Linked DNA regions of Homo sapiens. The protein of the gene in region 2 purifies or fractionates together with the protein of the main gene of each other region. This does not show direct contact. Each region holds a gene or a part of one and is shown on either strand. Other genes may lie near its edges.

The links. Proteins that work in one complex are often made in the same cells at the same time.
Region 1: the proteins of APBA2 (region 2) and IQSEC2 purify together in Homo sapiens (co-immunoprecipitation; 3 studies listed by BioGRID and IntAct, with this or other methods). This does not show direct contact.
Region 3: the proteins of APBA2 (region 2) and IQSEC1 purify together in Homo sapiens (co-immunoprecipitation; 3 studies listed by BioGRID and IntAct, with this or other methods). This does not show direct contact.

The regions. Positions count from the first base shown.
Region 1 is NC_000023.11:53,240,663-53,248,372, forward strand, and holds part of IQSEC2 (IQ motif and SEC7 domain-containing protein 2), read right to left. Parts: intron 7,575-7,710; coding exon 7,452-7,574; intron 6,474-7,451; coding exon 6,307-6,473; intron 2,810-6,306; coding exon 2,670-2,809; intron 1,248-2,669; coding exon 1,122-1,247; intron 1-1,121. UniProt on the Homo sapiens protein: Is a guanine nucleotide exchange factor for the ARF GTP-binding proteins.
Region 2 is NC_000015.10:29,049,516-29,057,701, reverse strand, and holds part of APBA2 (amyloid-beta A4 precursor protein-binding family A member 2), read right to left. Parts: intron 3,858-8,186; 5' UTR 3,818-3,857; coding exon 2,867-3,817; intron 1-2,866. UniProt on the Homo sapiens protein: Putative function in synaptic vesicle exocytosis by binding to STXBP1, an essential component of the synaptic vesicle exocytotic machinery. May modulate processing of the amyloid-beta precursor protein (APP) and hence formation of APP-beta.
Region 3 is NC_000003.12:12,895,855-12,902,451, reverse strand, and holds the end of IQSEC1 (IQ motif and SEC7 domain-containing protein 1), read left to right. Parts: intron 1-929; coding exon 930-1,469; 3' UTR 1,470-3,017; coding exon of another isoform or gene 3,018-3,062; 3' UTR 3,063-5,409; downstream 5,410-6,597. UniProt on the Homo sapiens protein: Guanine nucleotide exchange factor for ARF1 and ARF6. Guanine nucleotide exchange factor activity is enhanced by lipid binding. Accelerates GTP binding by ARFs of all three classes.

The DNA of each region.
Region 1 (7,710 bases), on a different chromosome or scaffold from region 2:
AAGCTGGACCCTGAAAGTCCCTTCCAACCTGCAAAGTCCTAAGAGTCCCATCCCTAAAAGACAAACATCTCTACTTGTAATGAGCTCAGTTTGAAGAATCACTTCAAGCATCTTTTTTTTTTTTTTTTTTTGAGACAGAGTTTCACTTGTCGCCCAGGCTGGAGTGCAATGGAGCGATCTCAGCTCACTGCAACCTCCGCCTCCTGGGTTCAAGCGATTCTCCTGCCTTGGCCTCCCCAGTAGCTGGGACTACAGGCATGCGCCACTGCGCCCAGCTAATTTCTTATATTTTTAGTAGAGACGAGGTTTCTCCATGTTGGCCAGGCTGGTCTTGAACTCCTGACCTCAGGTGATCCACCCACCTCGGCCTCCCAAAGTGCTGGGATTACAGGCATGAGCCACCGTGCCTGGCCCAAGCATCTTTTTTAAATTTTGTTTTTATTATTTATTTATTTATTTTTGAGGCAGGGTCTGGCTCTGTTGCCCAGGTTGGAATGCAGTGGTGCGATCACAGCACACTGCAACCTCTGCCTCCTGGGCTCAAGTGATCCTCCCGACTCAGCCTCCCAAGTAGCTGGGACTACAGGTGCACACCACCATGCCCGGCTAATTTTTGTATTTTTTGTGGAGACAGGGTTTCGACATGTTGCCCAAGCTGGTCTCAAAACTCCTGGGCTCAAGTGATTCAAACTGCCCTGGCCTCCCAAAGTTCTGGGACTATAGGTGTGAGCCACAGTGCCGAGCCCACTTCAAGCATCTTGATTACTGAAGATTTCCAGACTGACCTGGGGGGTCGCAGGTTCACCCCTCTTCACACAACCCTATGGGCTATTGAGGTGGACAGGGATATTTCCTACCACTTCCCAGGTTGTAAGTCTGTCATCTCCTTTGGTCCTCATATTTTCTGTCCCTGTGTGTCTGTTACTACCTCCAAATGCATCTGTGAGGAAAAGGAGGGGCAGAGAAGGCCTGGGCCTTGCCTGAGACCATGCAGATGGCATGGCAGAACACCTCGCCCGCCACACTCCACACACCACACACCTACATCAATATGGTTCACACCAGACTTAGGTGTCAAGCTCACTCTCTCCCTCCCATCTCCTCCCCCACAGTGCTCATACCACAAGGAGATCATTGAAGAGGAAGACCTCCCGCTGATGCAACCCTAGCCTCTGGGGGCGGTTTGGATCTGGCACCTCGTAGAGCTGGCAGCAGCAAACCAGTCGACGGTGAGGGAGAGACAGGACCTAGACAGGCATGAAGAAACAGGTGTCAGCAAGGCCAGCCCATCAGCTTCAGGCCTCCTGGCACCTTAACTTTCAACCGCAAGAAGTTTACCACTCATACATGTGTGTCACTCTGACACAAGGGGTATCAGCAACTAAGACCTAAACTTATCTGCTACCTTGCCTTTGCCCTTCTGTCTGGAATGTCTTTCTTGCCCAGCTCTGCATGGTCATATTTCAACTCCCTTTCAAATTTCCATCCCGGCCGGGCGCAGTGGCTCACGCCTGTAATCCCAGCACTTTGGGAGGCCGAGGCGAGCGGATCACTTGAGGTCAGGAGTTCGAGATCAGCCTGGCCAACATGGTGAAACCCCGTCTCTACTAAAAACACAAAAATTAGCTGGGTGTGGTGGTGGGCGCCTGCAATCCCAGGTACTCAGGAGGCTGAGGCAGGAGAATCGTTTGAACCCAGGAGGTAGAGGTTGCAATGAGCCGAGATCATGCCACTCCACTCCAGCCTGAGTGACAGAGTGAAACTCCATGTCAAAAAAAAAAAAAAAAAAAAAAAAAAATTCAATCCCAAAATGATCTCTTCCAAGAAGCCTTCCCTGATTTCTCCAGGCTGAAAATGGTCTCTCTCTCCTTTCTCCTCTCCTAAACTGGACCATAAAGCAGAAGTATTATATGTGTCTTTGTTTCACACCCCGACTGGTCTGTGAGTGCCCCCAAGGATAGAGAACACGTCTGATTCATATCTATGAATGCCCAGCACCAACTCTGGTGCCCAGCAAATGCTGGGCTCAGTGGAAAGGCATCCACAAATGTTTGTTGGCTAAAGCGTTTTCTTTTTTTTTTTCTTTTTTTGAGACGGAGTCTTGCTCTGTGGCCCCAGGCTGGAGTGCGTTGGCACGATCTCAGCTCACTGCAACCTCCGCCTCCCGGGTTCAAGCAATTCTCCTGCCTCAGCCTCCTGAGTAGCTGGAACTCCAGGCATGCACCATCACGCCCGCAGCTAATTTTTGTATTTTTAGTAGAGACAGGGTTTTGCCATGATAGCCAGGCTGGTCTGGAACTCCTGACCTGAGGTGATCCACCCACCTCGGCCTCCCAAAGTGCTGGGATTACAGGCACAAGCCATTGTACCTGGCCTAAAGTGTGTTCTTACTTTGGTTTTCTGCTAACCATTAGCTTGGCTCTTCACTTAGGATGGACAGGCAAAGCCGGAGGTGAAAAGGATGCTAATATTTATATAGTACCCACTATGGGCCTTGGAATGTGCTCGATGCATTCACTCTGCACCACAGCCTTCTGAGGAATGCATTATCACCCACTCTGTATTGCAGGTAAAGGGCACCTGGGGCTCAGGGAGGTGCAGTGACTTACCACTTAGTGGCAGAGGCAGACCTGAACCCTGGCCCCTCTGCAGCCTCCCAAGGCACTTACTGGTTTCTTTCCAACAATCATGCGCTCCACAGCCTGCACCTGGGACACATGGTCATCGTTGGTCCGCAGTTCACGCCCCTGGATGCGCTGGTAGATGCCCACCAGGAGGTCTCGGGGGATGTCTTCACCATTGTCAACCCCTGGGGGAGGGAGTAACACAGGGATATGTCACATAATTATGGGCACTGGGTGGTAGGGGTGCTCCACCACCCCCACACCCAGGCACGGGCCACGATAGTCAGGACTGAGGGTCAATGGGTACCCTCGGCCCCTTAGCCAGGATTGGGGCAGGGAGGGTGTCCTTCAGTACAACAGCCAGTTGCTATCTTCCCCAGAGTGGGGAATTTTTTCTCAACAACTCAGAATACACTGTAATTAAAACAATCAGATACTATTGTTTGCCTTCCTAATTAGCAAAAATAATTTAAAATGAAATCCAGTGCTAGGAAGAGTGCAGGGAAGTGGGCATGTATGGTAACATAACTCTTTTGGAAGGTAATTTGGCAAGAACCTAAATGTTTGTACCCAGTGATTCTCTTCTAGGAATCTACCCTAAGGAACTACTCAGAAATATGTGCAAGAGGTATGTGCAAGAATGCTAGTGCAGGCGGGGCATGGTGGCTCACGCCTGTACTCCCAGCACTTTGGGAGGCCGAGGCAGGTGGATCACGAGGTCAGGAGATCAAGACCATCCTGGCCAACATGGTGAAACCTCATCTGTACTAAAAATACAAAAAATTAGCCAGGCATGGCACCATGTGCCTGTAGTCCCAGGTACTCGGGAGGCTGAGGCAGAATTGCTTGAACCCGGGAGGCAGAGGCTGTAGTGAGCCAAGATCGCGCCACTGCACTCCAGCCTGAGCAACAAGATTGAGACTCTGTCTCAAAAAAAAAAAAAAGAAAAAGAAAAAAAAGAATGCTAGGGCAGGCGTGGTATAATCCCAGCACTTTGGGAGGCTGAGGCAGGTGGATCGCTCGAGCCCAGGAATTCGAGAGCCAACCTGGGCAACATGGCAAAATCCCATCTCTACAAAAAATACAAAAATTAGCTGGGTGTGGTGGCACACACCTGTGGCCCCAGCTACTTGGGAGGCTGAAGTGGGATAATAGCTTGAGCCTGGGAGGAGGAGGTTGCAGTGAACCATGATTGCACCACTGCACTCCAGCCTAGGCAACAGAGCAAGACCCTGTCTCAAAAAAAAAAAAAAAAAACTCACTAAGTGTTACTTATGGGGACAATTTGAAACAACCTAAATTTTAACAATAGAGGATAGTATATCCATTTAATAAGATAATGCACAGCTATTAAAAACTTGACATTTACAAAAACATTTCAATAGCATGAGAAAATTACAGTAGCAAATTATGGGAAAAGAGTAAGATAAATTGCATGTGTGGTATGATCTGAACTATATAAAAAGTTACATATGCATGGGGGAAAAGATTAGAACGCACCAAAACATTAACTATGATTGCCTCTAGGGGGCACATTTTGGGTGATAAAAAGAAATTTTCTAATTTTCTGAATCTTCCAACATTTCTGAAATAAAGTATGTATTACCTTCATTTATTTGCTTATTTATTTAATAATTAGAGGGGGAAGTTACACATACACACACACACACCCACACACACACACACATATATTGAGAGAGAGAGGGAAAAAGAATGGATGAATGAATGATGGCAAAATTCTAGGAGACAGCTCCAAATGGCCTCTGATCTAACTCCCTCCTCCCATGTTCACCATCCTTCTCCACTTCTGATTGCTGAGTGAAACCCACTCACTCTTCTCTCTAAATCCTCTACTAGAGAAAATGTTTTCTGGGCAGGACGTGGAGGCTCACACCTGTAATCCCAGCACTTTGGGAGGCCGAGTTGAGGCAAGGAGTTTGAGACCAGCCTGGGCAACCTAGCAAGACCCTGTCTCTACAAAAAATTTAGAAATTAGTTGGGCATGGTGGCACGCGCCTATAGTCCCAGCTACTTAGGAGGCTGAGGTGGGAGGATCGCTTGAGCCCAGGAGTTCAAGGCTGCAGTGAGCTCTGCTAGCACCACTGCAATCCAGCCTGGGTGAGAGAGTGAGACCCTGTCTCTAAAAATAAAAAAAAAAAAAACAAATAAAATAAAAAAACAGAAAACAAAAAAAATGTTTTCTTCCTTGGAAATGTCACATCTCCTCCTTGGACAGGTGCTAAAGGAACATACTACATCGCACTGACTTTCTTACCAGAGCAGCCACAGCGGCACAAACCTGATGGGCAGCCAATTTGTCTTGTGTTCAGTTTGCTTTTTTTCTTTGACTCTATTTCCCTCTTTCTTTTCTGCTTAAATAATCTTAACATCTGTACCATTTTTAGTAGCTGCTCTTTGGTGATAGGCAGGGCTCGACATCAGTAGAATAAGCAAAAAGAGCAAGGTGACACCTTTCATCTGGCATTCAAGGCCCTCATATATTGGTTCCATATATTGGAACCTCATATATTGGGACCTTCCCAACCCATCAATGACCTCATCTCAATTGTTCTTTTTTTTTTTTTTTTTTTTTCAAGACAGAGTCTTGCTCTGTCACTCAGGCTGGAGTGCAGTGGTGCGATCTTAGCTCACTGCAACCTCTACCTCCCAGGTTCAAGTAATTCTCCTGCCTCAGCCTCCTGAGTGGCTGGGATTACAGGTGTGCACCACCATGCCTGCTAATTTTTGTATTTTTAGTAGAGATGGGGTTTCCCCATGTTGGCCAGGCTGGTCTGGAACTCCTGGCCTCATGGGATCCACCTGCCTCAGCCTCACAAAGTGCTGGGATTACAGGTGTGAGCCAACGTACCCAGCCCTCAATTGTTCCCTAAAGAAAATAAATGTTCCTGCCTCTGCGCCTTTGGTATTCTCATTGCTAGGTAAGCCCTCCTCTATCTCTATTGTGTCACCTTCTCCATGCCTTCAAGACCCACCTTAAAATAAAAATACTACCTCCTCCAGGAAGCTAGCTAGAGGTGGGCTCTCCCTCCTTTGAGCTCTGACTGCACTTTTGGCCTCTCTGATGTCACTGTTCACTTTCTGTCTTATGTTAGTTATCTGGGTGCTACAAGTCAGCCTCTCCCACACACAGGGAGCTCTCTCAGAACAGGGAGTATGGCAGATTCCCCTCCATTGTCCTTGGCACCCATCATGGGGCTTGGCACACACTAAGCGCTAAGTGTTGACTGGCTGGCTGGTTGTTTGGTCGAGTGATAAATGAATGCATGAATAGAGGAAAAGGTACCTAAAATAATTAAATGAGTCCTCATGGGCATAAATAAGAGAGGGAAAGAAGGAGCGAGGAAAGGACAAGTGAATTACTGAATGAATGAATGAATGAATCAGAGTAAAGCCTTGTAAGAGTCAGGACTTTAATCTATCATGTTCACTGCTTGAACCCCAGGACCTAGAAACCTGGTACACAGTAGAAGCTCAGTACAATGGGCAAATGACGATTTGAGTGAATTAATAAGTGAATATCCTGGGAACATCCAGCTAGGGCAGAAAGTGACAGCATCACAAATTAATTTCCAAGGAACAGATGGGATCTCCTGCATCCTTCCCCTTACCCCCCACTTTCCCTTTCCAGGTGAAGGGCAGGAAAAGCTGACAGGGAAGTCACCTCTCAGGTTCTTGATGAAGTCATCTAGTTTCATCTTTCGTTCAGCTTTGACGCTGGGACTGTACATGTCGGTATTGAGGAGGATGATGGCAAAAGCAAGGATGAAGATGGTGTCTGGGTTCCGGAACTGGCGCACGAGGGCTGGGTTACAGACACAGTACCGCTGGCTGCAGGGCAGGAGGGGTCAAAGCCAGACTCAGGAACCAGCCATCTCTGCCTACCCACCATCCACCCAGTCTGGCACCAGCAACCCTTTCCTGCAAGAAATACTTTCTTGATCTCTGGGTCTGTCCTCTTCAGAGCTTCCCCTAGACCAGCATGTAAAAATCACAATCGCTACCTTTTACAGAGCTCTTCCAGGGGATTTATGTACGTTGTTTCACGTAATCCTATCATAATCCTGCAAGGTAGCTATTGGCAGTCCCATTTTACAGATGAAGTGACTAAGACTCAAAGTGGCGAGGTAACTTGCCCAAGGTAATAGAGCTGGTAAATGGTGAAGCCAGGATGAAAACCCAGTTATTTCTGACTGCAAAGCAAATCCTTCCCCCATTGTGGGAAACAAGTTCTCAGCAACTCCTGTTTCTCTTCTAAATACCCTAAAGTGGCAGAGCCAGGATTTAGACCCCAGTCTATCTGATCTCCAAAGCATTTATAGTACAGTAAAATGGTTAAGGGCATGGATGGATCATGGACTCAGACACATACGAGTTCAAATCCTGTTTCTACCACTTATTCACTGTATGAGCCTGGGCAAGTTACTTAACCTCTCTAAACTTCTGATTTCTCATCTGTAAAATGGGAATAATAACAGAAGTGCCTACTTTATGGGGTGGTTGTGATTATTCGGTGAAATAATCATGTAAAGTGCTCAGCTCTGCACCTGATACCTAGTAAGTGCTCCGTGAATGTTAGCTGTTATTGCTGATGTTGTTGTCACTTATCGAATGCCCATGTCCCAGAGGCTGAGCTAGATACTTTATATGCACTACCTCTGATCCTCACAATTGCCTTGCAAGATAGGATTTATCATCTCTGTTTTATGGTGAAGAAAGTATGAGGCTCAGAGAAGTGACTTATAAACACATACTACGTCGATGCCCACAGGAGGGAGGGGCAGCTTCGCGAGTGGGAGGTAGGCACACCTGAAGGCTTCGATGAGTCGCTCCACTTTCTGGGCCTCACCCTGAACCCGGATATGGGACTGGAACTTCCGGAGCGCATCATCCAGATCCATGGAGGAGAAGTCCATCTCATCCACCACACAGCTAAGGAGCAAAGAAGGAGGTGTGGCGCTTTCAATTCCTCTGCAGAAAACCTCTGACCCACCTGGACCTGCTCAAATGGACCAACACCCCCACTGATAGACTCTCAAATTCAGGACCTGTGGCCCGAGCAAGTACA
Region 2 (8,186 bases):
TCGCCCAAATGGATCATGGAAAGGTCACTACAAATAATCATGAAAATTATATGGTGACATGGAGAAACATTTATCATACATCAGATTTTAAAAACTGTATGACAAAAATACATCTGGGTTATGATGACAGCTACGTACATCATTTATGCTCAATGCTATGGTCTGAAAAGGCACACTGATGAAATAGCTCATCCGTTAGGGTAGTAGGGACCATGGAGAATACATTTTTCATCTTCCCATTTTTTCTAACTCTATTTTACTATTGCCATTCGTGCAATGACTAAATGCTATTCAGTCCTCTTCAAAATATCCAGGACACACTTTTTCAAGCTGTAAAATGAGTAGAAGAGAGGGGAGGGTTGCTACACAATTTCCTCCAAGTGAGTCTCCTACAGCATCACAGCTGGAATGTGGCATCTTGTTGAAATGCAGATTTCAGATTCAGCAATGTGGGGGCGGGGCTCCCCAGTAATGCCAATGCTGCTGGGTTAGGGTTAAAAACAGGAGTCTACAGCATCTAAGTGACCAATATTGCCCATTTCTCCCTTCAGATTTTTTTTTTACTGCAGCCTCAACCATAGGGATCACTACACTATGTGGACAGCACTGGGATCAGAGAGGTGAGCATGGGACACATGGCACCCTGTGCACCTGCTTGAGGCCAGGCCTTTGTTGGCTCCTGGCACGGCCTGGCTGTCCCCCAGGGGAGGAAGGGGATTGTTCTTAGGAAAGCAGGTTGTTATTTCAAGCAAGGCAGCACCAAATCTCCCAGTGCACATCCTTCATAAAAAATCTTGCTTTCAAGATGAATTCTACGGCTCTTTCTGGTCAGGTTTCAAAGAGGTCCTCATCTGGAATGGGGTACTCAAATCTAAGAATGTGGAGACCCTGCCCACGTGCAGCGGGCCTGGTAGAGTCTTCAGAAAGAGTAGTCAGGGCCCCTGGCACCAGGGTACTTGTCAGCCTGGAACTCTGGAACTAGCAGGTGTTCCCCTTGACAGAATTAATTTGTGAACTGATAGGAAAGAAAGAAAGAAAGAGAGAGAGAGAGAGAGAGAGAGAGAGGAGGGAGGGAGGGAGGGAGAGAAGGAGGGAGGGAGGGAGGGAGGGAGGGAGGGAGGGAGGAAGGGAGGAAGGGAGGAAAGGAGGAAAGGACAGAAAGGAGGGAGGGAGGGAAAAACAAAACAAAACAAAAGCTATACAATCATTAACCAGTTTAAATGAACTTTTCCAGTGTCTCAGACAAGAGCATGTCCTTCAAGGACACATTCTCCTTAGGGGGAGAAGTGACATACTTTTTCATTCAATGCCTCTTCTGGGAAGAACAGACATCCTCTTGATCCTCCACAATGGCTGGGGACTTCCCCTACCTCCACCTGCCCTTTTAAACAGCTACTATCACCCATCCATCCATTCATTCCCACTCATTTACCTCCCAGCTCTCCAATCGCAAGATCTCTGTGTTTTTACCCAAATTACCATCTGGTTAGCATGAAGCACAAAACCAGAAAATATCAGGTCTTGCTTACTCCCCACCACGCTCTAAAGATAATCTTCTTTGACAAGAACTTGGCTAGCGATGCCATTTGTCACAATAAGACGCAGCATGTCACACGCTCTGCACAGCCCACGTCAATCCCTGAGGTGCCTTCACCACTGTTGTGGGACAAGCCCAGGCCCTGCTAAAGACCAAAGAAACACTTTGCTTTGGCCTAAAGCCCAGACCCAGGGTCCAGAGCCTCCTGGCCTTAGGGGTGAACTCTCCCAACACCCACTAGTACCATGGGAGCTCCTATGCATCCCACAGCCCCCTGTAAACACGGAATTGCTGTGAATGACAGGAACACCCCCAAAGTGAAGTCAACTGACACTTAACGTTCTTTAGAGAGAATACAAGACATTAAAATACAAGTGCTGAAAATCCAGGAGTCAATTAAAATATAAGTGCTGAAAATCCAATGATTTCCATTCCAAACCCAAGCTCTCAGTACACACACACACACACACACACACACACACACACACACACACACTCAAATTCATGAACTCTTCTCGGAAAAAAATATTTAACAGTTAAGGCTGTAAAAAAATATGACAGAAGTCCACATAATTGGCCAAATAGAAGTTCCTTCACACAAGTCCAATAATCACATCTTCTTTATATACTCACAGTGAGGCTTTTTTTGGAAGGTGGCTTTTCAAATGTGTTTATTAGAATGCACGCTGACTTTGCTATAATTAAAATACAGTTATGCTGACATCCACTGCCCTCATTAGCATGCGTTTCTTCCCCGAGGTTTTGTCAAACCTTCAAAAAATCCTTTTCCAAATAGGTATTCACAGCTGATTGCCCATCAGGCCAAGGCCCCCGGGCTTTCAGAGACCCGTCCATTGTGAAATGCACTCTGGCCCCGACCCCAGCCACCAGGCCACCCAACACTGGCCGCAGCAGTGGGTGAGCACCAGCACCCCCACGTCTTTGCCACTGCCCTGCTGGTCTGAGTACACCCCTGAGGATTGAGGGGCTCTCCCACACATACTGCCCCACCATGAGCAGACCAGGGCAGTGGGCAAGAAATCGAACCTCTCTTCTAGGGTGGGAGGAGGGGTGTCTTCTGCGAGACACGAGTTGCCACTCAGCCCTCAACCGGCTTTAGTCCTGAGTCTGAGCGGTGAGCTTAAGAGTGGCCGGAGCATCCACGCAACATGTCTCCCAACTGGACCAATGAAGAGCTCAGCCACCATTAGAACTGTGAGGCACCCAGCACCCCCCACCGCCTCGCTTCAGCATCTGCAAGGCCTGTACCCTGAGGTCCCTTGCTCTCGGGCCCCTCTGCTCCCTTCCCCAGGACAGCCAGGGTCCTACCTGCTCGTGGGGCCACTTCAGCCTCTCTTCTGGGGTCCTGGTCTTGGGCTTGAAGCCTCTCTGGGGGTCTCCGGGGTGCTTGGCCTCGGGAAGGAGGTTCAGCGACTTGGGCCTCGCCTCGTGCCTGCTGGGGCTGCAGCTGGCCTTGATGGGTGGGCAGGCCTCTACAGAGTCCTCAGGCCCTGGCTCAGGCCCATGCTCGGGGCTGGCCTCACTGGCGCTGGTGATGCTGGTCATGCTCAGACTCATCTTGATCTCTGCCACGATCTGGTCAATGTCCTCCTCCTGGTCCTCCAGGTCCCCATCCCCACGCCTCAGGCGGTAGGGGGAGGCGCCGGTGTTCCCGTTGGCCTCCTCGGGGTAGTAGTCCTGGTAGCCCTCTTTGCTGGCACAGTAGTGACCATCTTCTTCCTGGTCATGGGCCTCAAGGACGGAGGGCTCATCCTCCGGAATGGGCAGTTGGCCGTCTGGGTAGTCCTGGCTGCCTTCAGCCTCGTGGCCGTGGGGGTGCGGGCCCGCCGAGTCCGTCCACTCCTCCACCGCCTCCTGGCACTCATCAGTGTCCACAGGGTGTGCACTGTGGGCCAGGTACTCCTCCCCGTTGCAGTCCATGCCCTCTAGGTAGCTGTCGTCCTCAGGGCAGTAGCGGATGTAGTAGGTGATGCCCTCCTCCTCCTCAGGGAGGCCCTCGTCATAGTCCTCCTCCTCAGAGGTGTTGTTCACGTAGTCAGAGCTGGAGTCCCCATCGGGGCTGTGGTTGTGGCACTCCTGTTCCTCTGGCGCGGGGCTCTCTGGCCGCAGGGCAGCCAGCTCCAGGCCCTCGGGCACATAGCCCTCCAAGGGCAGCTCCATGTCCTCGCTCTCGGGCTCCTGGCTGTGAGGGACAGGACCTGGTCTCACCCTATGGTCCAACATGCCGCTCCCCACGCTCTCAAGCTTCCGGTGGGCCATGGCAGTCGTTCACACAGCCATCATCACCCGGAGGCAGCCACTGTGGGGAGGAACATTGGGAAGGACAGAGTCAAAACCCCACAAAGCCCAGCCATGTGTGGGGCCACTTCACCACAGCACCTCCCACCACGTCCTCCCGCAGCCATGTGAGGGCACATCTGTTCAAACAGTGCGCCATCCCCACCCCCGCTAACTCATCATCAGAACAACACGCATCCACACCAAGGAGAACGAGGGCACACAGAGCTCCGGGAAAAGCAGTCAAGGGAGGCACCGGCAACTCACGAGGACACACGCCTCTCCCCAGGAACCTACCGGCTCATTCCTGACTTCTCACTCAGTTTGGGTAGCCCAGGTGACCAAGACAAATGGTCAGAAGATCAGGTTGTTTGCTCTCACGAAGAAAATGAGCAGCTTTCATTAAGAAGACATAATGAGGACCAATGAGGAGGGACAATAACTCTTCCCAATCTAAATCCATGACCCCTCAAAGACTATCTTGGGTACCTTCCCCTTCAGGCTTATCCCATCCTCTCCCTCCTCTTCCCCCTCAAACTGAACAATGTTCACCGAGGAACTGGATGCGCAGGGACCATCCAGGCTGAGCAATGTGCAGAAAAGCTCTACACAAGTCCCCAGCGTGGCAGGCTGGAGGGCTCAGCAGAGGGGACAGCACTGCTCGGCCATGGGGAGAAGAGGACAAAGGGTGCAGCCGCAGCCTGCAGGTATCGTGGGGTGACAGGGCAGCTGCAGAGACCTGGCAGGCCAAACTGGGAGAGGGCCTGGACCCAGTGCCCAGGACTCTGCACTTTATCCCCCAAACCACACGGCTATGGCCTTAATATGTCCCCCAAAGTTCATGCGTTGGAGACTTAATCCCTAATGCAACAGTGTTGAGAGGTGGGACCTTTGAAAGGTGATTAGGTCATGAGGGCTGTGCTCTCATGAATGGATTAATGTCTTTATCTTGGGAGGAAGTTCTTTATTGTGAGAGTGGGTTTGTTATAAAAGTGAGTTTGGCTCTCTCTTGCTCTCTTTCTCATTCTCCCTCACCTTCTCACCTCTGCCTTGGGATGACATAGCAAGAAGGCCCTTACCAGATGCTGGCACCTTGACCTTGGACTTCCCAGCCTCCAGAACTGTGAGAAACAAATCTCCATTCTTTATAATCAACCAGTCTTAGGTATTCTGTTATAGCAACAGAAAACAGACTAAGACATGTGCACAGTCACTGAGCCATTTTCAACATTTTTTCTTTTAGCCCTGTCTCTCTGGGCCTGGCGTGGGGACAGAGGCTAGAGGCTAGAGGCAGGGAGACCAGTGAAAAGGCTATTCTCTCTTCTGGGGGAAAGCAAGGGGCTAGCATCAGGAAAGTGGCACAGAGGACGTCCAAAAGTTTGCTTAACGTTCTACTTCTTTTTTTTTTTTTTGAGATGGAGTCTCGCTCTGTCGCCCAGGATGGAGTGCAGTGGCACCATCTCAGCTCACTGCAAGTTCCACCTCCTGGGTTCACACCATTCTCCTGCCTCAGCCTCCCGAGTAGCTGGGACTACAGGTGTCCCCCACCATGCCGAGCTAATTTTTCGTATTTTTAGTAGAGACGGGGTTTCACCGTGTTAGCTAGGATGGTCACGATCTCCTGACCTCGTGATCCGCCCACCTCGGCCTCTAAAAGTGCTGGGATTACAGGGGTGAGCCGCCACGCCCAGCAACGTTCTACTTCTTCAGCTAATTGCTTCCCCAAATGTTTGTCATATTCTTTAAACTGTACTCTTACATTACACATGCCTTTTTGCTTGCATGATAGTTCAATTATTTAAAAAAACATATTCCAGTAGTCCAGTTAAGAGCTTGCACACTTGAAAATGCTTAAAATGCTAAATTTTTTATGTCTATTTTACTGCAATTTTTAAAAAGAAAAAAAAGGAGAGCTTAAACTAAAACAGTAGAGAGGACAGTGGAGAAGTGGCTCAGTGAGGACCTTAGGTGGCAGAAGCAAAGGGATCTGGGCTCAGATGGGAGCAGGAAGTGAAGATGAAAGAGGAGCTATCAGTGACCCTCAGCAGTCACTGCCCGGGCTCTCATCTTGCCTTCCTGTACCTCCTCTTCCCCTCTTGTCTCTTTAGTTTAGGCCACAAACTCAAGGCCTTCCATATTGTGTATCCCCCCAGAGCTCCAAACACAGCACCTTGTTTGTAGTGGTGCCCAAAACACATCTTGTTATGAGACTGAGTGTACCAGATGGTCACGGTTACAGCAGTATGAATATTCCCAAAAGAACGAAGAAGGAGATAATTATTTCATCCAGTCCAGACACTCAGAGTGTGGGCACAATTACTGATGGAGCCACATGCTTCCAACGTGTGAATTCACTCCAAGGACACTTGACATCTAAAGAAGCAATGTTTACTCCGCCACCTGCACAGGCTTGTCCATGGCCGTGTTTCAGGAGCATCACTGGTATGCGGAGCAATTCACAGCACTCCCCCTAGAGTGGCCCACAGACAGCAAAGATGTCCCACACCAGGAAAATTGTCACTGAGATGGACCCTGCAGGGCCCGTCACCCCATTCGCAAACCCTGAAACTGGCAGGACAATTCGAAAGAGCTGTTCCCTAGAAGAGAACAAGGGGCCAGCACTCACTAAGACATCTGCAACCCAGATGTGTCAGAGGACACATCAAGAACACTGAGCTGCCTCAAAGACCACATATAACTTGTCACCAGATTTCTTATCTTCACAGAGGACAGCCAGCCACAAGAGAGAGGCTGCAGGAGTGATGTCAGGGACTTAGCAACCACAACTCTCAGACACAATCTCCAGTAACTACATTCCTCAAAACGGTCTCTCAGAAGCATGTGCTGAATGCAGCTGCTAACATGCAACCAGACGTCCATGTCTTGACGTCAGGACGGCAAAGGGCAGATGGTACATCACTGGCACATGAGCACACAGCTCCCATTCCTTGCATAGCGGTGCCATCTCTACAGCATCCCTGTTTCTCGCCAGGCTCTGACATCAAGCTGTGCACGTTGAAGGTATGCACATCCTTGTTAAGAGAACAAACTAAAGTACACAGTACTCTTGCTATCTTAACTTCAAAATCTCTGTCATTCGGGGGGATAAAATCTGTAATATGCACATATAAATATGTATACCAACACTAAATAAAATATTCTCTAGGCCAATATAGGACATAAGGACTAAAATACACATTACAGTAACATGGAACAGTCCAGATCCTATTAAAATGTTATTCAAGTTTTCAAAAATGAAAACACTGAGGACATTGTAGGAGAACTACAATAGAACCAGGAGTTTATTTTCCACTGGTGTTTCCTATTAGCTCTCCAAGCCTTCAGATGATTTCAGAAAAATTTATTCCAGATGTATAACACTACGACAACAATATAATTTGGACTATAATTACTCAATTCATAACTTACCACTGCTTCCTATACTTTTTGCATTTCTTTCTCTTGAACTATTTAGTGGGATTTCATTTTTATTTTGTAAAAATAATTGTTAGAGTCATTTTGTTTACTTAGGAGGTAACTCTTTTGTATCTATAAAATGGCTCTGATCTCACATAGAATGATACCTTTGCTAGGTATAAGATTATTGTATTGCATCCTTTTCACAATAATTTGCTAACACTGTTCCACTATCTTCTAGCTTACAGTCTCGCAGATGTGCATTTTAATACTATTCAGATTCTTTTTACCTTGGTACAAAAATCTATTCCTTCCGTCTGGAAGCTGATACAATTTCCTCTCCACTCTTAGAGTTCAGAAATTCCAGCAAACTATGTCTAGATAAGGGTCTTTTTTAATTTTATGAGGGTCTCATTAATTTTATGTGAGATTCATTTGGTGAGCCCTTTCCGAATCAAGTCCCACATCTTACTTTAGTTACAGGAAGATTCTTGCTATTTCTTTTTTATTTCTCTCCCTAATGGCCTTTTTCTCTTTCTGGAATATCTCTGGAATTTGCCCTCCAAATCACTGAACTTTACACTCATAGCACCCATTTCACATTTTTTTCTGTGTGGTATAAATTAGTTCCTCCATTTGACCTTCCAAAACACTAACTCACTTTTCAGCAAGATATAGCATGTGACCTGTCTTTGCTCTTGCTGGCAACAAAGGGCCCCTGAGACACCAGTGCATGTCTTTCAGCGACTGGTGGATGGCTGGGCAGTGTAAGATACAGTGGGAGAGGATTTTATGGTGAGCTGGAGGCAGTCAGGGTGGTCATCTGGGACTTCACTGTTGAGATGTGAAGAGGTGCCTGTATTTTTTAGGTATGACAGAGATAGGCTGTCCTCAGCCAGATCTGCTTGCTTCCAGGGAAAATGTCCACCCTTCC
Region 3 (6,597 bases), on a different chromosome or scaffold from region 2:
TCCCTGAGCATGGTTGACCATCCCCAGCTTCCGGCACCCCCGCCCGGGCCACCCGGCTCCCACTCACCCTCCACACTTGCTGTTGGATGTTTTTGCTGAACCCTTGACTTCCACGCCCGCCCATCCTCATCGCTTTCTTCTTGGAGTTTGATTGCTGTGTGTCTGCGGCAGGACACCATGGAATTGCTTAGCTTGTGGGAGGAGGAGTGTCTTGAGAGAAAGAGATTCAGTGTGGATTTCATGATATTTCACTCATCCTCCGGCCATCTCTGTATTACTGTTCACATCTCTACCTCAGCTTGCAGATCTTTTTCTGTTACCTTCTTTTTCCTTGTTTGGTTTGTAGTAGGCAGCTGTAGTGAAATGCCTAGGCAGCCCATTCTCCCAGAGGACAAGGTTTCTGAGCCCCACCTGTCCCTGTCACCACCTCCCCCGAGACCTCAGGACCCACATGGGCGGAGCACATGCCCTCAGCCCAGTTGAGCAGTCCCAGGAGAGCTGAGGGCCCTGTTTTCAGCAGGAGCAGGGCTCCTCCTCCAGGCACATCAGCCCCTCTGCACTCGCCACACACAGCGCACAGACACCCCAACCTAGGGGTTCCAATTTGAAATCTCAGGCTGCTGCCAGGGCCAAAGTGCTTGTCAGAATGAGACCAGAAGTCCTACTTCTGCCGTGGTGGTCAGAGAGATGGGCCCCTCCCCTGCCCTCACTCCCCACTTTGGTCAAGGCCAGTAACCCCCAGCTGCCCTGCACTGTAGTGAGAGGAGGCGGGGCCCAGTCCAGCCTCACTGAGCCCCACCCTCTGGCCAGTGAGTTGAACTAAAGCTTAGCAGTCAGTGGGTGAATTTTTACATTTGAAAAAAAAAAATCATTCTGACCTAAGTGCTTGAAGATCTTTTAATTTTGATTTCTATGAATTTCCTTTTTAGGGGTCCATCATTAGCAGTCCTCACATGCGCCGGAGAGCTACATCAACACGAGAGTGTCCATCTCGCCCACACCAGACTATGCCCAACTCATCTTCCCTCCTGGGCTCCTTATTCGGGAGCAAGAGAGGGAAGCCCCCTCCCCAGGCCCACCTGCCCTCAGCCCCAGCCCTGCCACCCCCCCACCCACCGGTGGTCCTGCCTCACTTGCAGCACTCTGTGGCTGGCCACCACCTGGGGCCCCCAGAGGGGCTGCCGCAGGCCGCCATGCACGGGCATCACACCCAGTACTGCCACATGCAGAACCCTCCCCCGTACCACCATCACCACCACCACCACCCACCCCAGCACATCCAGCACGCACACCAGTACCACCACGGCCCCCATGGGGGCCACCCAGCCTACGGGGCCCATGCCCACGGCCACCCGCCGCTGCCCTCGGCCCACGTGGGGCACACAGTGCACCACCATGGGCAGCCCCCTGCCCCGCCGCCCCCCACCAGCAGCAAGGCCAAACCCAGCGGCATCAGCACAATTGTGTAGACAGCCTGGGTAGGGGTCCCAGGCTCCCTGAAACACCTGCACACCACACAGGGCACGCCCGGGGGTCGCCAGCCGCACACCAAACCCGGGGCACTTCTGTTGCCATCTCTCCCCTCTGCCCCTCACGGCCCAACCGGAGCCCCAGGAGCCCACAGGGCTGGTGTTGTGTGGAACAAAGGCCCAGATTTCATTTCTTGTTGGCACCCTGGGCTCTGCTCACCTCAGTCTGAGGGATGGGTGGGCCTCAGACACCATCAGCCTTGAAACGGTGAGCCAGCCAAGTAGTGTTGAACTGCCTCCCCCACTCCAGCTCTCAGCTCCCTGTGCCCTAATGTACATGCATATGAAAACCCAACCTAGAAAACGAAGAAATGAGATACAAAAACAGACAAAACAAACCCCAAAACTTGCTGCATTATTGCTCTTTTATTGACAATGGGCAAAAAAATAAGTAGACCTGATATGGTTGATGAAAATACGTAAGTAAACTTTATATAAATATATAAATATATAAATATATATATATATATACTGTATAGGTAGTACTTGTGTGTGAAAGGCAGGCGTTTCAGTCCACATTAGCAATACCCACCTTACAAGGAGCTCCACTTACCTAATAGGAAGACAGTACCTTAGCTGGGTGTGTGAGACAATAGACCAAACCCTAAATGCTAGGAACAAATTCAGATACTTCATATTTTCATACAAAGAAGTCCCTCTAGGACTGGCTAAAATCTTTACACAATCATTACTAACTGTGCCAAGTAACATAGCATCTAACTGTTTAAAAAGTCCAGTATTGCTTTGTATAAATCCTTATTTTATTAACAGAATACTATCATAAATAGTATTATAATGCTGTTATTTCAGGTAAGCAAATAGCTAAACTGCAGTACACTCTACAGTAGCAACTCAGGACAGCTGGTTACAAGCTGGTTGTCTTAGGACATTGGTTACACGGATTCTTAGACACTTTAATGGCTGCGATAACTGTGACTCTCCATGATCCATGTTTCTTTTATGCGCATATGATTTGACGCACACTCATTCAGAGTCCTCCGAGAGGGGCACCCATACACGGCAGAAGTGTTCATCTCCAACATGAAAGTGACCAGCTCTCATCCTCGTCTCCCCAACACCATAACGTCCTCATCCCGCCTCCAACCCACACCAGGCCGAAGCCCTCAGAGAGTGTTTTCATCAGGAACCACTCTCGAACCTGAAGGTTGACTTTAGCGTTTAGCAACCCAGGGCGGTGTGTGTGTTTCCCGTTTTGTTTTCTGAGTGGTAGCAGTGATCACCGTAATTCCATGTAGCCATGTGCTAGCAGAACCCCTGTGTCCTCACCGTGGCCCGTGTGACCCCAGCCGACGAGTGCCCGGCGGAGCCCCCGCTGCCTTCCCATGGTCCAGTGAGCTGCCAGGGCATCACATGACTCTCAGCTGTGCTCTTGTCGCTTCTGTGTTGTGGTGACACCATGCGCTCCCCAGGGCCAGACCTGCACGCGGCAGGTCTGTGCCCGAGTCACCCACGGGCCATACTTTGTAGTTTCAGCCTTTCGAGCCACTGCAGCCGTCAGTGCTGTGCTCCTAAGCCATGGGACCCGAGGACTGCCCCCCGGCGCCTGCCCAGGCGGAGGCCCTTTCAGAAAGGGCGAAGCTCACGCCTGACTCTGCGGGCCGCGGGGCCGCGTTCCCAGTGGACAGCGTGGTGAGCCGTGGCCGGACGGCAGGAGGAGAGGGGAGCCCCCTCTGGCTGTGTGTCACCTTGGCTGGCTGGCTGGCCAGGGTTTTGCCGATTTCCCTCCTCACATCCCTCCCACCCTCGGTCATATCATTGAGATCACCGTACCAGCAAATCTGCAAACCAAGCACTTTGTTAATCTCCAGAGAGAGCAAATACAGCAATCTAGAGTTTAGCCTTTTTAAAAATGTGACTTTAACCCGCCCACCTGTGTCCTCCCATTGGCGTGGCATTTCTTTGGTGTCTGCTCAGAAAGAAACAGCATGGGACCGTGTGATTGGGTCCAGGCTGGGCTGTCAGGGAAGCGCCCTGGTGTCTCCGACTCATCAATTCTCGGGTCTTTTTTAAAAGCCAGGCTCCCCAAAGCACTCTGTCTCGCAATTTTGAGGAGGCTGTTCCGACCTGGAAGCGTTAAACTGCTGCATGTCATCTGGCGTCAGCTGTGAGGCTGCGCTCTGCGTGTTGTGCGTTTGCAAAATGTATTGGCGTGACTGTAAACACATCGTTGAAGTAAAGCGATTACATATTGAGTATGTCAGCTTTTCTCACCCTCTTCTGTGCTGGGAGGAGAGTCTAACTGTAACCTTTAGGTTGTTCCAGAAAAGATTCAGGCCGTTTGGCACAGAATTGCTCTTTCTGAAGGGTAGCAGTAATGAATAGGAACAGACAGAAAACCCCAGGAGGGGCTTTCAGGAAACTCTCCCTCTCCATCGCCATCCTGCAAGCTCCACAGCCTCGGGCTGCCAGCCTGTGGCACTGTCCTCGGTGTGTCCTGGAGCTGTGCTGGGCAGCAGGGCCTCGCGTAAGGAACTGCTGGAACCCACTGAGCCCTTCCCGGGGTTTCCCGCCGCACTCAGTGTGTTCCTTCAGGCTAGTGAGGTTTCATTCTGTTTTATTTGCAAGCTTATCAAAAGTTTGTGGAAGATACATTGTTGGGTTCCAGAGGCTGGAGTCATGCTGCCCACATCTTGTTTGGGAAAGCAAAAGCTCCCAGTGAGCTGGTGTCCCCGTGTGTCTTTCATGGGACTGTCCCCTTTAGAGATCCCACCTGTCAGAGCCACAGCTTCGGGGTCCTGTCATCACATCCCCTGGGAGGGGAGGCAGGAGGAGGCCGAGGGCCCCAGGATGTCTGCCTGGTCCCTTCTCACTGTGAGGACGCCCTTGGCACACCTTTCTCAAGTCACACAAATTACTGCAGTTACATACAGAATTGCTGACAGGAGCAGGAGACGCTGAGGGAAACAGCTGGCAATGTGACAAAAGTCTTTTCTGGGACAACAATCAAATCATGTATTTGTATTTTTTTAAGTTTACCAATGAATTGTACAACAATGTAAAAATAAAGTTCATCCTAATATGCTGTGCACATCTTGCTTAAAAATGTCTTCAGCACCCAGTGCAGTGATCTTTCCCTCACACACTGCATGCAGCAGGAGCCTCTTGTTTTTCTTAATGAGCTGAAAAGACAGCAGATGTTCACAGCTGATGCTGGGTGTTGACTCAGCGCCACGGGAAGCTCTGTGCCCGCAGGTAAGCACGCACAGTCTTACAGTTCTCCTTGTAAAATATCATCACCCTTCCTGCCTGAGAAACGAGTACATTTGTATTTTATGTAACAACAATAGTCAAGGCAGCATTGCAACACTGAGCAGGGTGAGGTGGGGGTGCTGAGCACAGGACAAGAGGGAGGAGGCCTGCCCTCCATTCAGATGCATCTGCATCGCCCTTCTGTGTGCAGTCACATCGAGACTGCACACAGCATGCATCTCCTCTTGGAAAATATCTTTTGCCTCCGAGTTGTTTTAAGCAATTAGAATCAGGTCCTGAATCCCCAGACTGTTCAGAGACTTCAAGGGACACCTCCCTCACAAGAAGCCTGGCACCCCCACTGTGTACCTTTGAGAGGAAAGGAGTGCGTTTGTTTTCATCTGCATTCTGTTTGTCAGTGGCAACAGACTCTATCAATGTAAAACCATGGTTGTGATCATGTGGGGAAATCAAATAAATCCTTTGAAACTCTCGGATTCTCACTTTTTCTGAAAAGTCCAGAAGTTGCCCTGTTGGCCAGACCCAGATCTCCAGCTGATGAGTTTCCCCATTACTTGTTGTGACTCTGGGCACTCACTTTCCTTGAAGACATTGGACTGACTGAGGACACTGATACAAAATTTAAAATAAAGGGACACATCACAACCAATAGAAGGTTTCAAAGGTATTTATAATTTCTAGCAACTTTCAACAAGTGATGGTCCTTTCATGGAGTTAGAGGGGATGAATTCTATTAAGCGTTGAGGTACACTGATTATGACTTAGGGAAAAAAATACCCAGTGGCCCAGTCCCCAGTAAAGATGGATGATGACAGGAGTTCAGAGCAGCCTGCGTTTCCATGTTGGCTCATATCATGTACAAAAGCCAAGATGGTAAAGTCATTCTCCTGGAAGGAAGGGGCCTGTGAGGATGTAATTGGCTTCTGCGATTTCTCCTTTCCTGGCCAAACATAATTCCTGAGAACACCACTTTAAACTTTCAGTGCATGGGATAAAAGGAACTGGCAGATCTAACTAGTGGAAAACCAAACAAAAAAAAGTTAATTTTGGTGACCAAAATGAACTCTGGCCCTCCCTCCGTACAGCACATTCTGATTGAAAGATGTTCTCACAGGGGCCCCCTCTTCCAGTCTCATTCATAGCCACTACTGGCTCATCTAGACTGAAACCAGGAAACCAGCCATTTCAGTGCACACACACAAGTGCCTTGCACAATGCCTGTTTCTGCAACTGGGCGTCCATCCCTTTTACAGACTATTCAGGGGCCCTTCAAGAGAAGCTGGGTACAAAAATTCCCTGAAATACCCGGTTCTGCCTCAGGGTTTGATTTTTACTACGCAGATCTACAGCCCAGGAGCTGCTGGAGGTAGGTGAGCTAGGCCAGGGCTCCGAGGCGGTGATCTTCTGGGGATTGTGTTTGTCTCCCCCTGCCCTGAGATTGTGAGCTGCATGATCCGCCTGTGTGTGTCCAGTGACAGCCCCAGGACTGGGCTTGTCGGCATGCATCTATCTGAAAATTAATGGATGGCTGGAAGAGGCAGGGGTTCAGGTCACACCACCAGCAGCAGCTGGTGTTTGAGAATACCGATCACTGACATAATTAAAAAACGTATGGAAACCGGTTTGCTCATCCCCCCCACTTCCCTTAACACTTAAGTCTGGCTGGGAGACACCTGACTCAGACCTTGAGATCATGGTTCTTCCTCCTCCCTGGCTGCATGTGACTTCTGTGCCACCGAATCCCAGGAACATGTTTAGCTTCCCTGACCCCTCGGCAGCTGTGACTGTTCGTGCCTGCCTCCTTGAAATGCTGGTTCCCGGGCACCTCTGGGCCATG